Linked DNA regions of Homo sapiens: region 2 is linked to region 1. The links come from fine-mapping of genetic effects on gene expression. A gene starts in region 1. The other region holds a variant in brackets. All regions are shown on one strand. Distances are from middle to middle.

Region 1 (2,908 bases):
TTCGTTGGTCTGGCGGCCACTTTCTTTGAACATTAGCTCGCTTTCAGCTCCAACTTCAATTAGAAGGAGTTGATTTTGAGAGATCAACAAAAGAACCGACCAAAGCCTTATTAAAGGTCCTAAGAAGATCTCCCGGGTCCTTTGAGAAGCAGTTAAGGAAACAGTGTGCCCTCCATCATATTCTGTTACCGTATTTTATTCGGACTCCAAAGGAAAGTGTCGCTTGGGGGAGGGGGAAGCACTTTGATGAGCGGCGGCCGCGGCCCCTTTTCACTCAGCGGGCTCCCCCTTCGTTCTCCTCCTCCTCACCCAGCGCCCGGTCCGCTCTCGGCGCCCGACCCCGCAGCCCGGGCAGCGCGAGTGCTCCCCACTGCGATGCGCCTGGAGGCTCCTTGACTTGCCCTCACACTTAATCCTGTGCAAACTTTTTACCCCGCCTGTCGGGGTGGGGGAGTGGGGGAGATTAGAAACAAGGGGTAGAAATTCCTCGAAAGGGAATAAAGTGCCTAATTTTCAGGAGGAGGTGCCATTTAAAAGATTCGCCTAGCTTAGAGTTGGAACGAAAACTCTTTTTTGCACTTTTAAAAGTCCACCCAGGTAGACGTGTTTGGGAAGTTTTTTCGGGTGGGAAATGGGCTTCGCCCGTACGAACAATCCGGGGAAATCGCCTCAAGGAGGATCCTTACGCAGCATGTGGAAAAAAGTTGAGGGCAGGGGTCTGTGGCCACATTTTCCATCAAAAAGTCCCTGTTAGAGGCAGTCTAAGAAAGAGAGAGAAAGAGCGAAAAAGAAACTTTCCTATCAAAATGTTTCAATTAAGAAGTAGGGTGTACGTGTGAGGGGAAGAGGACGCTGGGCTCCAACGTTTCAGTAGAAGCGCTTAAGACTTGCAAACACCCTTGGTGGGGACCTGGAACCCCGGGAGATGCCGACGAGCAAGCAGGTAAGTGGCGGCGCCCTCCCAGTGGGTGCTCTTCCCAGGCGCGAGAGTCCGGAGGGGCCGAGGAGAGATCTGCACGCCCGGAGCTGCTCCCGCGCTCTGCAAAGTAGCCTGCGCCGGCACGAGCAGCCCGCGGCGTCGGTCTCAGGTGGCGGCGCCGGGGAAGAAAACGCTGGGGCCCGCGGCGCCGGGAGAGGGGCCGAGGCCCGGGCTCCTCCAGCCCGCCGCCCCCGGGTCCTGGCGCCCACACCCGAGCGGCTGAGCCCTGTAGCGCGCGGGAGAGCGAAGGAACCGGTTCTCCAGCACCTCGCCTCCTCCCTGCCACTCCCTCCGGAGCGCCGAGAGCGCGAGAAGGGCGGGGGCGCCCAGGGCAGGCCTGGAGACCCACGGCCCCCTCCGCGGCCAGGACTCGGGCTCTCCGCTCGCCTTCCTCGCCTAGCTCTGCGCCGCTTTTGCCAGCCGAGTCCCGGAGTTAGCGCGCGACCGGGGCGGGGCGGGAGGGCGGGGAGGGCGGGGTGTGGGGGGCGGGGGAGGGCGGGGGCGCGCGGAGGTAACCCCCGGCTCGCGCAGCCATTGCCCGGCTCCCTGTCACTCAGCCCGCGCGGGGCCCCCGATTGGCGGCCTAGCCCCGTTACGCACTCGCCTCGCGTTCACATACCCGGGGAGGGCAGTAGAAAGGTGATCAATCTTCATCAGGCTACATTTCCAATCACCTAAACAACCGAGCAAGACAAGCCACTCCGACAAGGTAAATCGCTTGATTTATTTAGTTTGCAAAGTGACTCTGCAGGACTTCCCAGTCCCCACTGCCTCCACGTTGCACCGGGAGTGCCGCGGCAACGCCGAGCCACCTCCCAACTCTGCCCCTCGAATTCCCCCCCTTGCGGCCCCTCGGCGCGATCCCAGGCGAGGCAATGTCCTGAGAACGTGTGGGGCTTAGCAAACAAAGTGTCTGTGCAATAAAGTGAAACCCAGAAGGACACGCACAAAGCCATTGAAAAAAAAGATAGAGGTGGGAAGAAGGAAGTTGGGAAAAGAAAGAAACCTGGGGGTCCTAGACCAGCCGCCAGGGTAATTCCAGTGCTGCTCTGTTTTGCAGGTTGGCTGCCCGGCGGGTCTCTGTGAGAGATCCAGGTAGATGGTGAACGGCCCCGGCAGCTGAGGGCAGGTAAGGAGAAAGCCGCGGGGCCACCCCGGACTCCGGGAGCGCGTTGGTTACCCTTATCTCCCCCTCCTCAAATGGATCCCGGCTTCCCCGGTCCCCAGCAGGTGGTCGGGGCTGTGGGAGCGGCCTGGCTCCCCTCTTGGTGAGCCGAGGACCCCGGGGCGCTGTCGCGGCCCGCAGCCCCCTCCCCCGCCTCCTCCGAAGTAACCAAGCTGAAGTGCTAAGTTTGGAGAAAGTCTTTGAAAACTCACGCTGCAGCTTCGCAAAGCCGTCGCAGCTTTGAGTCCCATTTTCCTTCGGCCCTAGAGCCCTGGCTGCTTCCCTTCCGGTCCCCTTCCTACAAGCTGGACTCCCTCAGCCCAGGTCTTGGGTCCCAGAAGACGGGGGCGGGAACGGGGCTGGGGGGAGCTTCTTTAGCTCTAACTTCTCTCCTTGAACGTCCTAGCCCGAGTCCCTGGCTTGCTTCACAGCGATCCCGCTAAGCGGGGTGTAGCGATGGCCCCCCAGGGCCCCAGGCCCAGTTTCCAGCGCCCCTCCCTGACCCCTGAGAGTGGCACCCCGGGTTCCCGGCAGCGGCGGGGGCGAGGCTTCGACCTCCCAGCTCGGGTCTGCGTGGGCTACGCCGCTGAGGCCTAGTTCTCTGTTCTCGACCGTGTCCTGGGGCCGCGGGTTCAGCTACAAGGATGGCAGCACGCGACTTGCTGCCCTCCGGCTTCACAAATCCCCGAGACCCTTTGAGGTGCTAGGCCAGTCACCCTTCACCCCCTGCTGGGACCCTGCGGTCCGCAGCCCAGACTGGGCAG
Region 2 (2,908 bases), 300 kb after region 1:
AATGACTAAATGTGACAGAGAATCTCTCTGGTAGCTCACAGAGGTTCTTATCTTCTTAATTTGAAGGGCAGACATAGTAGACAAGTAGAAGATCTAATTGTTGATCAGAACTCTAGAGATGTTAAGATGCAACATCAAGGCAGGTCTGCTTTACTAAAGTCAGGGAACTGCTTAGTAACACTTGGAATCCTGAAATATGAAATGGGTACCTCTGAATAGATGCCCTTGAGTATTCTGATACTGCAGAACTCTTGAATCTGAGCCAGCACTCCACTGTACTAGAAGAAGCTCAGAGACCTTTCCCCACAATGTAGTACCTACTCCCCTCTCTCAGGAAATGCCTCTACCTTTATCCTGGCTGCCAGGCTGATAACTACAGTCAAATCTCAGCACAATCCAGCTGGGGACATGATGAACCTGATAAGGTAGGAGACTATACAACTAAAGAGTTGCAAGAATTCGACACTATGTGCCAGCAAAAATAGGGGAGCACCTCTCGGATTGGATTAAGAGGATGCTTGAACATGGGAGCTGGAATGGAAAACTGGGTAAGAGTCCATTTATGTGGAGGTACTTTTTCAGGACACAGGATTTAACACCTTACTGAGGAGCCCAAGAGATGGAGCTAATTGCTGCTGGAATGGCTCTTAGATGCCTGGAAAAAGTAATGTCCAATACTCAATGAAGTGAAATACCCCAATTGTTATGGCACAAGAAAAAATGGAAAGCATAGCAGGGAGAGTAAGAATCATCTGAAGCCGAGATGAGATGCAGTGACAGTGGGTTCAGTTTATATTATGAACCTCCCATTTCACCTCCCCTCAGTTACTATGGAATAGCTGAGCCTATGTGGAAAAGTAGACCTATTCAGCCAATAGGTGGATAGTGGAGATCTTGAGAATGCACCCCTCAGATTTCTGACTTCATTCAACAAAATAGACCAGCAGCCCTGGCTGCTATGGTCTGAAATCCATTAGTGCATCTGCACAGAACATATAATTCCCACAGGCTGCTCCCAGCCAATCCCCAGCAGGGATTCTAGGGCAGCTCCCTTTCTGGGAGACATGGAACTGCCTGTTATTGTTCTTTTCCTAGCCTCAAGTCATCTCACTCTAT[G/C]AATGCATAGCTCAGAGTTCAGCCAAAGACTCAAGGTGACTCTTATGTAGATTTATGGAGCTCTTTCTCCACAAAGCACCTGCCTCTCCAGTACACAAACCTGCAAATTCAAGCTGCCTCATCTTCCCTGAACTCCAACTAACTCAAAAAACTGCCATGTTCCACTTGCATTCCCTCTCTTTGCTCTCTGGTCTAGAAAGTGCCTCTCATCATAAAACCAGAGGATCATAAGGTTGACCTCATTTGTTTTTAATTCTCAGGGATCAGAGTCCTATACTGTCAATCTTTTAATATCTAAAGACAAATTTTCAGTGCATTTTGTCCAGTTTAATAATTGTCTATGGCAAGAGGGTCAGTCTGTTTCCAAATAATTATCATAGCTGAAAGCAGGAACTCTCAAATAATATTTTCATTAAATATTACAACCCTAACAACAATAGCCACAGTAACAACAACAGGTAATATTTATTAGGATCTTCTGTGTACTAGTTACTATTTTAAGTACCTTACATATATTAATTCATTTAATCTTGACAACAGCCCTGTTAAATTGGTAGTACTATTATCCCCATTCAACTGATGAGAAAACTCAAGTACAGAGATGTTAAATAAGAGTTGCCAGGTGAAACACAAGACACCTAGTTATATTTGAACTTCAGATGAATAATAATTTTTGATTATAAGTATATCTGATACAATATTTGGGACATACTTATATGAAACAATTATTTATTATCTGAAATTCAGACTTAACTGGGCATTCTGTATTTTTGCTAAATCTGGCAACCCTTAACTTGTCCAAGCTCCCATAGCTACTCAATTGCATAGTAGGACATGGAGCCTGGCAGTCTTGCTCCAAAACTCACACTCTTTACCATAGTGTTGCTCTACTGTCATTGGAAAAGAATTAAGTATTTGCCCCAGGCTTATAGATCCTTCTTTAGATCTGGTTCTTTGGTTTTCAGAATTCAAGATTAGAAATGCCATGTTGTAGTCATGGAAAAAGAATGATCAAGTAGCTCCCATGTTGGGCTGTTTTTGTGGGGGGGTCATTGGGTGTTGAAGAAATAACTTCTGAGAGGGGGAAATTGCCCCCCCCGCCCCCGACTGGATATTCATCTGAGCTTTATTGAGTCCCAGCTATGGCCCTGACTTTTGATTGTGGCCCTCCCTAATGCCAGCCCCCTCTTTGACTTATATGTTAGGGACCTAAACTTCTGTCATTTTGGACCTTGCAAGTTTTAAAATTAGTATCATTCAAAAGTTATCATCAGCTAGATGTCAGCTATAACTACATTTACTTTTATAGGGTATTTTCAAAATCCCCTAATGCTTGATGTCCTGTGGTAGGACTAAAAAGTTTAGAAAAACTAATGACATTAGTCTTTCTCACCTTAAGAAACTCAGTCTAGTAGGCGAGATAGCCACAAACACAATGATAATAGCTATCACTTACAAAGTACTTAATACATGCTAGTCACTTTATTATTTATTATTTATAATCTTGGCATTTAATTAAAGTTTGGTAAGTTCTTCATCTATAAAGATGGAAATAATAGTAATAGCTTAAGTAACTCACCCAAAGTTACCCATCCAATAAATTAGGAAGCTGGGATTCAAACTTAGTTGTGTTTGACTCCAAGCCTTGGACTTTTCAAAAATTACTGCATGCTATCTCCACAACTGACTTAAACTTCAGACTATAAGTGCTATAGCAGAGCTGTCAATGAAGAATTAGTGAAGCATTCATAACTAGTGCATCCTCCTCAATACCTAGTAGAGGGGCTATTCT

What was found.
Region 2: its variant is fine-mapped to the expression of OTX1 in whole blood (TOPMed, PIP above 0.99).

What each region holds. Positions count from the first base shown.
Region 1 is chr2:63,049,210-63,052,117 of GRCh38, forward strand. OTX1 (orthodenticle homeobox 1) reads left to right here and starts at 1,621. Exons shown (of 5, transcript NM_014562.4): 1 at 1,621-1,688; 2 at 2,040-2,108. RefSeq lists enhancers at 1-759, 1-122, 123-870 and a silencer at 987-1,646.
Region 2 is chr2:63,345,524-63,348,431 of GRCh38, forward strand. All of the region lies in intron 12 of WDPCP (WD repeat containing planar cell polarity effector), which reads right to left. Among named protein-coding and RNA genes, the nearest start is that of WDPCP, 240 kb to the right of the region's middle. The variant G/C (reference allele first, on the strand shown) is at 1,117.